Regions from separate parts of the Homo sapiens genome. Here region 2 is linked to region 1. Evidence: fine-mapped expression QTL. Tissue or cell type: whole blood. Region 1 holds a variant in brackets; the other region holds the start of a gene. All regions are shown on one strand. Distances are between the middles of the regions.

Evidence for each region. PIP is the estimated chance that this variant, and not a neighbour inherited with it, causes the effect.
Region 2: it holds the start of RIPOR2, and the variant in region 1 is fine-mapped to the expression of RIPOR2 in whole blood (TOPMed, PIP above 0.99).

What each region holds. Positions count from the first base shown.
Region 1 is chr6:24,836,651-24,841,859 of GRCh38, reverse strand. RIPOR2 (RHO family interacting cell polarization regulator 2) reads left to right here. Exons shown (of 22, transcript NM_001286445.3): 14 at 2,588-2,769. Among named protein-coding and RNA genes, the nearest start is that of ARMH2, 40 kb to the right of the region's middle. The variant C/T (reference allele first, on the strand shown) is at 2,342.
Region 2 is chr6:24,932,906-24,938,037 of GRCh38, reverse strand. It overlaps RIPOR2 (RHO family interacting cell polarization regulator 2), which reads left to right and starts at 2,078. Exons shown (of 22, transcript NM_001286445.3): 1 at 2,078-2,200. The coding sequence starts at 2,140. LOC105374981 (a long non-coding RNA gene) reads right to left here and starts at 4,063. Exons shown (of 3, transcript XR_007059514.1): 1 at 3,974-4,063; 2 at 3,668-3,792. RefSeq lists an enhancer at 1,196-1,365.

The sequences.
Region 1 (5,209 bases):
GATGACTTGAGCCCAGGAGTTAGAGACCAGACCGGGCAACATGATGAAATCCCATCTCTACAAAAAATACAAAAATTAGCTGGGCATGGTGGCACACACCTGTAGTCCCAACTACTAGGGAGGCTGAGGTGGAAGAATCGCTTGAGCCAAGGAGGCAGAGGTTGTAGTGAGCCGAGATCACGTCACTGCACTCCAGCCTGGGTGAAAAAGTGAGACCCTGTCTCAAAAAAAAAAAAAAAAAATATGGTGATTGTTTTTATATGTAGCCTGCCCAGTGGCATCTGAAACTACATTTCCAAGGCTTTTTGACCATCTTATCCTTCTCTACTCAGTCTTGCTGACCTAACTCTGTAGGAGATTTGTGCCCCAGGCAGATGATAATTCAGGTCCTGACTCTCCAGGTCCTCAAATGCTCATGACAGATAGTTCAGTTGATGGCATAGCCTCCGAGAAACAGAAGGGCACTCTGAATCTACTTTCTGTAAAATATCAGTTCAAAACCATCAGCTCAGGGCTTGTATATGCAGGCTGCTTGTCTGGTATTCTACTAAACACCTATCTTTTCTGCAAAGTTGACCAGCTTTGCTTTGTGGGCAAAAGGTATTCATTTCAAAGAGCTAAGACACAAATTGATGCCATCTAAAGTGAATTCCTTAGAGAAATCCAGTAGTGATAGCAGCTCCCATTCCAGGCATCTAGGGTGATGGTAAGTAGCTCAATCCACAGGAAACACTAAGCATTATTAAAAACTGGTGATCAGAGACTTCTTTCCAGAGTATTATTTCAGTCTGCTGTTGTTCCAAAATTGTCCTGCTACTAAAATCCTCAACTGCCCCTTTCTTTGTCATGACCAATATTTAAACACATCTGTACTGTACAAGATAAAATTGTGCAGACACCTTGCTTAGGAAAAAAGACCCTAGAAGTAGGTGAAGTCAAGACCGACTCCCTGTCTCCCCCTGAGACTGCTGAAAACATCACTAGTGAGTGTGTTTAGGTCTGGGGCAAATGGCTTTGTATCCAGCCAGAATTAAAGCATCAGCTGGACAAAGCTTTCTCTTTTCTCCCTCCTTCACATTCCTAGGATGCTAAACACCTTGACGATCAGAAACTAAATGGTGCTGCCTCTTGGACGGAGATCACTGAGGGTGAATGAGACAACTGTGATTTAAAAGACCGAAAGACGTTTTCCCATGTGCTTTTGTGCCATCTTGAGTGTCAGAGACAGATCCCTGCAAGGCCCTTCCTACCTTGCGCTAAGAAATCAGCAAGGAGTGTCACCTAACTGGATGGAGGACATTTAGTGCTTCTAACTTGCAGAATTTGTCCCATTCGACCCACCCCAGCATCCTCTTGAATATTTGGAAATACTTCTCTCCAACTCTGTGCCCATAGCAACTGGCATTGTTTTGCTTGTAATGTTTCTGCATGTGGCCAGCATTATAGAATGCTCCAGGCCAGAGAATGGGATTGCTCCCATGATGCCAGGGCCTGGTCAGGGAAGTGGTGGGACTTGTTCCCTTTGAGGCAGAGCTCCAGAGGAAGCAGGGCTGCTTCTTGTCATGCCCAAGGCATTCATTCTTTCCTCAGTCCTCAGAGGAAAAATTATATGCTGTGAGCAGGTGCGGTGGCTCATGCCTGTAATCCCAACACTTTGGGAAGCCCAGGATTGCTGGAGCCCAAGAGTTCAAGACCGGTATGGTCAACATAGGGAGACCCTGTCTCTGCAATAAAAGAAAAAAATTAGCCTGGTGTGGTGGCACATGCCTGTGGTCTCAGCTACCTGGGAGGCTAAGGTGAGAGGATTGCTTAAGCCCGGGAGATTGAGGCTGCAGTGAGCTGTGATCACACCACTGCACTCCAGCCTGAGTGACAGAGCAAGACCTTGTCTCAAAAAAAAAAAAAAAAAAAAAAAAAAAAAAAAGATGCAGGGCTTCTTACCTAGGGAACATGGGCTAGGTGAATTTGAACCACTTCCTGTTTCTGGGATTTGTTTTGTTAGTCCTTTAGAGCAGATGCCTTAGATAGCTAGCGCCTTTTGTAAAACACCGAAGACATTGCCACTTGGAATTAGAGATTGGTCAGTATTCAGCATTGACTCACTGACTTAAAATTTGTCTGCTTGTGGTATTTTATTTTGGGGTGAGCACTAGGCAGAGGGATATAGCAGTTCTGTTTCCCAAGGCTTTGTGGTTGACATGGTTTTGTTTTTTGTTTTTTTTGTTTTTTTTCAACTTTTTGTTATAAAAATTTCAAACAGAAGTAGAGAAGATCCTCTAATGGATCCCAGTGTGCCCATCCCTCAACCTCCTCAGTGATCAACTCATGGCCAATCTTGTTT[C/T]CTATTCTTCAACCTGCTGACTTCCCTCTGGATTCTTCTGCAACCAGTCCCAGATATTGTGCCATTTTATCCATGGTTGTACTTCTTTTTTGGATATAAAGATTTTTAAATGCATTTTTTAAATGCTAACAAAAAATAAAAACTTGAAACAAAAAAAAAAGTGTGGCATCTCCAATTGAGCATCGTGTGTCTGGTTTCTCTTTCCGGATATGTTGATGTTCTCCCTGGTGCCTTCTGCCTTTACAGTGCAAGCCAGCAGTAAGCCGCAGCAGGTCTTCCAGTTTAAGTCTCACAGTTGAAAGTGCTTTAGAAAGCTTTGATTTCCTGAACACCTCTGATTTTGACGAGGAGGAGGATGGTGATGAGGTTTGTAATGTTGGCGGAGGTGCTGACTCAGTATTTTCAGACACTGAGACTGAGAAACACAGGTAAGTCTGAAGTTAGTGTCTCCTTATATTTCTCCTGTCACAGCTGATACAGTAGTTCTTTGTTACTGTCAGAGGGGACCTGGTACACATTTCCAGGAAGATAAAACTCTCCACATGAGTGACCAGTTGGCTTACAGTTCCTTTTTATTGTCAAGTGCAATAAAAGGGTCAATATTATTCACCTCTTTTGGGTTGCTTAAGGGAAAATAAATATCTTTATATTTCCTCTTTATAAATAGAGAGGAAAATTTTGTATGAGAGTGTTTTATACAAGTACATGTGTACACATTTTTTTTTAAGACGTAGTCTTGCTCTGTCACCCAGGCTGGAGTGCAGTGGTGCGATCTCAGCTCACCACAACCTCCACCTCCCAGGTTCAAGCGATTCTCCTGCCTCAGCTTCCGGAGTAGCTGGGACTACAGGCACCCGCCACCACACCTGGCTAATTTTTGTATTTTTTTAGTAGAGACGGGGTTTCACCATGTTGGCCAAGCTGGTCTTGAACTCCTGACCTCAGGTGATCCACCCGCCTCAGCCTCCCAAAGTGCTGGGATTGCAGGTGTGAGCCACTATGCCCAGCCCTCACATGTGTCTTATAGGGTTCAGTGTCTACAACTTGACCCCATGTAATTAATTCCAAATTAACTAGGTATACACATTTCTGAAGAACTCTTACTGGATGACAAATTTGGGCCTGGTTCTCCCTGGCTTGCACTTTACTTCCACTGCCTTTGTTTTGTTGTGCTTCCCTTTCCCAACCCTTCATGTTTCCTTCAACCCAGTGAGTCTTTGCCAGAGATTGAGTTCATCAAGGCACGCATCCAAGTCAAGTTTAAGTCCCATGGTGCATATTTCTTGTAGAATGTAAGAGGGGATGACCAATGACTGCCACTGGTACTGCATGTCTCTAGGTGGAGAATGTGACCTTCTCTGGAAGCAACAGATGAAGGTGAAACATTGTCACCTTCACCGTCCGGTGTCCTCATGCAGCCAAATCATGTTTTGAGAACTAGAGCCTGGGGTCCAAATTTATAACTACATATAAAGCAAAATAAGCACAATGGAACATACCCACCTCCATCAATTGCTGTGAAAGAAAACACACTTTCCCAAAATGGGGGTGGATTGCCCGCTCATCTTTACCTTGGCACAATATGACGTAAATGGGTTTTCAAGTTACAGCAAGCTATGATTTCAACCTTCACAAATCTCCCTGAAAGATGCTAGTTTTTGTTTGTTGTTGTCCCTGAAGGGTTTCCTTTTTCAAAATAAAACCAGGAAAAAAAAAAACATGAGAACTTGAATTTACCCCATAAGCAATCTGGGGACATGGCAAAGAAAATTTATTAAATGAATGTAATGTTTAAATTATCCTACATTTGGCCAGGCATGATGGCTCATGCCTATAATCCCAGCACTTTGGGAAGCCAAGGCCAGAGGACTGCTTGAACTCAGTAGTTCAAGACCAGCCTGGGAAACATGGCAAAATGCCATCTCTACTAAAAATACAAAAGTTAGTTGGGTGTGGTGGTGCACACCTGTAGTCCCAGCTATGCGGGAGGCTGAGGTGGGAGGATTGCTTGAACCCAGGATGTCAAGGTGAGCTGAGATTGTACCACAGCACTCCAGCCTGGGCAACAGAGCGAGACCTTCTCTCAAATAAATAAATAAGGCCGGGAGTGGTGGCTCACTCCTGTAATCCCAGCACTTTGGGAAGCTGGAGGGTGAATCACTTGAGGTCAGAGTTCGAGACCAGCCTGATCAACATGGTGAAACCCCGTCTCTACTAAAAATACAAAAATTAGCCAGGCATGGTGGTGTACGCCTGTAGTCCTAGTTACTCAGGAGGCTGAGGTGGGAGAATGGCTTGAACCTGGGAGGTGGAGGTTGCAGTGAGTTGAGATCGAGCCACTGCACTCCAACCTGGGTGGCAGTGCGAGACTCCGTCTCAAAAAAAATAATAAAAATAAATTGTTCTGCCTTAATATTTTTTAGCTTGATAGAATTTGTGAAATACTTCTTATCCAAAAATTTTTCTGCATACTTGTTACCTTAAGCTGTTACAGGATGTAGCAAAGTCAGGCATCAATCTAAACTTTTTTTCTTCTTGCTATAAGAAACATTTTAACAAAAAAATATCACAAGCACAGGTTTTATAAATGTTATACATCATTGATATTAAATATGTCTAATTTGATCAATCTTATTATATGTCATCAGAAGTATTAGGGAAGAGAGAGAGACAGAGAGAGAGAGAGAGTGTGTGTGTGTGTGTGTGTGTATTTTAAATATGTATTGGCTGCTATGTGTGGACTGCCCAGACACAAACTGAGTGTTTTCCCCTTGGAGTCAAATGTGAATCAGAATCAGAATAAAGCATTCAAAGCCTCTAAGCTCTGGTGCTAATCTTTTTAAATTGTGGACACCAGAGAGTGTGAGG
Region 2 (5,132 bases), 96 kb before region 1:
AATTCCACCCACTTAAAATGAAACAGGCCTACAGAGGTTATGCTAACTTTTTGAAGTGGAATAGCTAGGGCCCTCAGGTTCACGTGGTAACCAGGTAGTTCTGAGGTGGGAGGTGAGGGAGGTAGTGCAGGTCCCCAAGAGCCACGGGGATGCTGCAGTGAACTGGACTGTGTGCAGTCACTCCCATAAGTTGTCCAGACATGAGGTAACAGAGTGAGCTCTGGAATTAGTCAAATCTGCCACTCACTAGCTGCCTGATCTTAGGAATGTTTTTCAAGCCCTCAGAGCCCCCATTGCTTCATCTGTAAAATGGGATAATAGCACCCACCTCATGAAGTTGTGGAGATTAAAGGACATAGGACAGTAGTTGAGAAATGTAGTGATTATCAAAATGGACACCCATCCTCTTATCCCAACCACACAAAAGAGAGCTTTAGTCCACATCCAAATTTCCTACACCTAGGCCCATTTTAATTAATTTAATTTATGTAACTAAGTGCAACCCTTGTCCAGAAACATCATTCAAGTGGGGATCATGGTAGGGGGTGGTAAAAGGGTCAGAAAGGGGAGATGCAAAGGAGAGCTAGAGAAAAGGATAACTCCAGTTCTCTGCCTGTCAGTGTGTCTCAAGGTGGGCATTATTGGTATTTGGAGCTGGACAGTTCTTCCTGTTGAGCTACTGTTCCATGCATTATGGTAAGGTTGATATCCCTGGGCCCCTGAGTGCTAAGACATTAAATACCAGTAATAACCCCCAGTCATTGTGCCACCCAAAACACCCCAGACATTTCCAAGCTCTCCTCTAAGGATGGTTCCAGCCCTGATTGACAACAATTGGTGATCCCAGCAGGACCCAAGCTGTACACTGTCTTTGGGAACTGCTGCAGCCACCAATGCAGGGATGAACTGACTGTTGCTGCTCAGTTAACCCTCAGTGTCTGATTCCTGAATTCCTCTGGGGTGATCCCTTCTCACTGCTGGATTTCTCCAACCCTGTTGTCCACAGTCTCTTCTGGGAGAAAATGGTGCAATTTCAAGGTTGCAGTTACAGGAGGAGGGGACAGTTTCTCTAGGGTAACACTGGGAGTATCTTCAAAACCATGCAGTAAATAAAGTGCCAAAAATAAACACCTTGGGTCAACAGCTCCTCACTGTCATCTCCATTTGCATTTTCTAAGCTTCTGGCCACCTAAGAGATCTTACAACACAGTGGAGTGCTCTGGGAAACCCCGAAATGAAGTCTCAGTATTACTCAGAGAGATGTGTGTTTGTTTGTGCAGCCAGACAGAATTTGGCACACGTTGGGTAGCTCGATATGGTGATGCCAGCCAATGGTGCTCGCGTAGAAGCTCAGTGTTCACTCATCCCTTTGGGAGGACTGCTTTTTGAGTTACATTTTCTTCTTTCTCCTTTAGTGATACAGTCTGAAGTATCAAACTGAGTAAATATTGTGAAATGCAAGATGTTTGACCAAAACCAGTTATCTATTCATTGACTATAGATTTAATCGAGCCACATAAAGCCTAGATATGGTTCAGTTTGGTTTAAATGCTGTAAAGTTTCCAATCCTTAAATGCAAGAGGTTTGAAAAAAAGAAAAGAAAAGAAAAGAAAAATGCAACTATTACTGAGCAAAATAAAAGCTCTGTCCTCTAAATGCCTGCTTTGGTTTAACATAGTGGCTTGCTTTACTTTCAGATAAATTGTAATTGAAGCAAAACCAAGATATGAGAAATATGAACTCCCTCTTTCAACAAAACCCATTGTGTTCAAATTCATAAGCAAGAAAGTTAAGCACCCACCTTCCTCTTTAAGGAAATATGAAAGTTGTTGCTTTGAAATAGAATTCATTGCATTCAGACTTTGAGTGATATCTGTATTCATATCCAACCGGATCTGCAGCCCTCTTCAAAAAATTCTTTCTCCTCAGTGGTGAGAATTACCCCACCTGGGATTCACTCTTCACAAGGCTCAAGAAGCCTATTCATATGAATGAAACTGCTTTCTTCAGGGCAGATGCGGAAGCTGCCCTCCAGAGGGCTTGGGCAACCCAAGGAAAGGAAATCACCTCGGTCGGCAGTGTGACTGCTGAGACTGCCGGGGCTGCTGCCTGCTGCTTCTCGCGCCTGTCCTCTCCAAGATGCAGTTTTTTGATGCTGAGGAGCTCCTGGTCGATGAAGAGGATGATGTTTTTGGTGAAGGTAAATGCATCTTTCTGGCAGGAGGCTCTCCGGTCTGCTTTGCTTTGTTTTGACACCACTGGACACTTTTGCCCAGCTTGGGCAAGGACTTGAGTATTTTGAAATGATAAAAACAAAGCATCCTGAGTGAGGTAGTGGCTGCAAATATCAACTTAGGCACTGAAGGAATACACAAGGCAAGGGGTGGAACAAGGGGTTGAGTCATTCCCGCAAATACATTTTTTAAAGTCATGACTAAAATAAAGGTTTAGTTTAGGCTGGAAAATAGTACTAAATTTTTTGCCTTGTCTCTCTTCTGTGCTATCTCTTGTCTAACACCTTAAGGAAAGCCTGTCACAGTGGTTTGAGCACAGCAGGGCTGCTAGGGAAGAAGTTAAATAAATGGACCAGGAGTGGTTTTTCATGGTACCATGTTGCTTTGATTTGCACTTCTCTCTTTCTGTCTCTCTCTCTCTCTGTCTCTCTCTCTCTGTCTATCTTTCTCTCGGTCCTTCTCTTTTTTTTTTTTTTTTTTTTTGTTGTTGTTTTTTGAGACAGAGTCTTGCTTTGTTGCTCAGGCTGGAGTGCAGTGGTGCAATCTCAGCTCACTGCAACCTCCGTCTCCCGGGTTCAAGTCATTCTCCTGCCTCAGCCTCCCAAGTAGCTGGGACTACAGGCGCCCACCACCATGCCCAGCTAATTTTTGTATTTTTAGTAGAGATGGGATTTTGCCATGTTGGCCAGGCTGGTCTTGAAATCCTGACTTCAGGTGATCCACCCTCCTTGGCCCCCCAAAGTGCTGGGATTACAGGCGTGAGCTACCATGCCCGGCCTGGGTCCTTCTCTCTTACTCTTCCTCACACATACTTGGCACTCCAACCCTCCATTCCCTTTTCCAATTTTCTTTTTTCCCAAGTCGGGATACTGGAGCCCTGGTAGCTTCCAATCCCCATTGGCACTGCTCAGTTTTCTGTTCTCATCTTGCAGCTTTTCCATGACTTGACCTATCCACTGGAATTTAACTGTAAAGGTTGCGATTTTAAAGGGATGATCTAGTCATTGGATGGATGTTTTGTTCAAATGCTGCCTATGAGATTGGGCTATAGGCAAAAGCTTTTTTAGAATTTGGAGCCACCTAAATAAAGGAAATTTGGACTCAAGAATCTCGTGAATTTGATTATTTTCCGCAAGAAACTACGTCTAGCAATTTTTTAAAAAACTCTATTCAGTAATTTTTTAAAAGGAACAGTAGTAAGGTTTTTGTGTATGTGTAATTACCCAAGCAATACAAGTTCGCTGAAGAAAAATTAGAGTGTCGCAAAGAACCCCTTGTAATCTAGTCATGTAGAATGTAATCATGGTTAATATTTTGATGTTGTCTTTCTGCTATGTTGTTCTAGCTACAGAAATATTTAAAATCATTAGTTGGGTTTTTATCACAACTTAAATCAATTTGAAGAATATCTATTGAGCTTCGCTGCTGTTTACCAAGTTATCATTCTGTTGTGTTACTTTGATGGCAGGCGTTTAGGCCACCAACACCTTGAAGTTTGATCTTAGGCCCCATTCTTCAGCTTTCACTTCTTAAAGATGTTTCCTCTTTAAGCAAACACCTTAAAGAGAAAATTTATACTTAGATACTAACTCTTTTGAGGACCTGAAAAATGCTCACAACTATGAAGATAAGCTTAGAACGGAAAAATTGGCAATCATTCACCCACACCTCCCTCCAGGAATGGCATTCCAAAACGCCCAGCCCACATTTCTTTGCCTATAGGAATTTTGCTCTTTTACATCTGGCTATGATACTTAAGAGCGCCCTCTATAGGCTGATGCACTGCACTCTGGATTATGCGTGGCCCCATCCTGAAGGGAAGCGTTAAGACCAAGCAGGGCTGGATGAACCTGTGTGTTCTCTCTCCTGAGCATTCATCATTTCCAAGGTGATTATTGTAACCTCACTAACCATGTTGTAGTGGAATGGCTGAGGTCCCCAGGTTCCAGGTAGCTAGGTAACCAGCTAGCTCTGAGGTGGGAAGTGAGGGAGGTAGTGCAGGTTGATAAGTTGGGAGTCAAACGAGATTCAGACTCAGATTCTGGTTCTGCTTCGTGGTACCCATACAAGCTAACTTTGGTCTCCTCAATGGTGAAGTGGGACAGTAATACCTATCGGTTGTACAGATTATCTTCATAGTAGATGCATAATGTTTGCGTTGCACTTCAATGTGGTATGCTTTATCTTTTCCAAACTGATTATCTCATTTAACTTAATCCCTAAAGATTAAAGAGAAAATCCTTGCAAGGCCAACATCCAGTGTATTTTTATTCAGTTTTCAGAGCCGTGGCTCATGTTTGGCAATTTATGTGAAAGCATGTCCAGCTGCTGCCTCATTTTAAGCAAGCTCTGTGTGGGGTAACAGTCAAAAGCTTCAGCTCTGGAATTGCACGGTCTAGGCTTTGCCAACCAATTCACTTATGACCTTAAGCAGGTTACCTAATCTCTCTGTGCCTCAGTTTACTCACTTATAAAATGGAGTCCAAACCTCATATGGCTGTGTGTGGCTTAAGTGTTATGATAGGGAAAGCTTTTAGAATAGTGGTCAGTACTTAATACATATGAATCCCTATTGTCTATTTACAAAAATGGGTTTATAGAATAGTGACCATTTTTTCACGTCTGGTTAACCTCAGATTCAAAATAGGACTTATTTACAGAACTTCAGTTTATAAATAACTTTTCAGAGGTTTAACGTGGCAGATATAGCACTGAACAAGTTGTTAGGAGTCTGAGTTGTAGCCTTGCCCCTGCTGTGGTATAGCTGGAGGATCTTGGGCAAGTCATTTATCTTCTTTGAGCCTCATTCTTCTTCTGAAACAAGGGGACTGATTACACATTCTCTGAGCATTCTACTACCCAGTCTCCAGTCTTTACTTCAAAATGATGTATCTACCT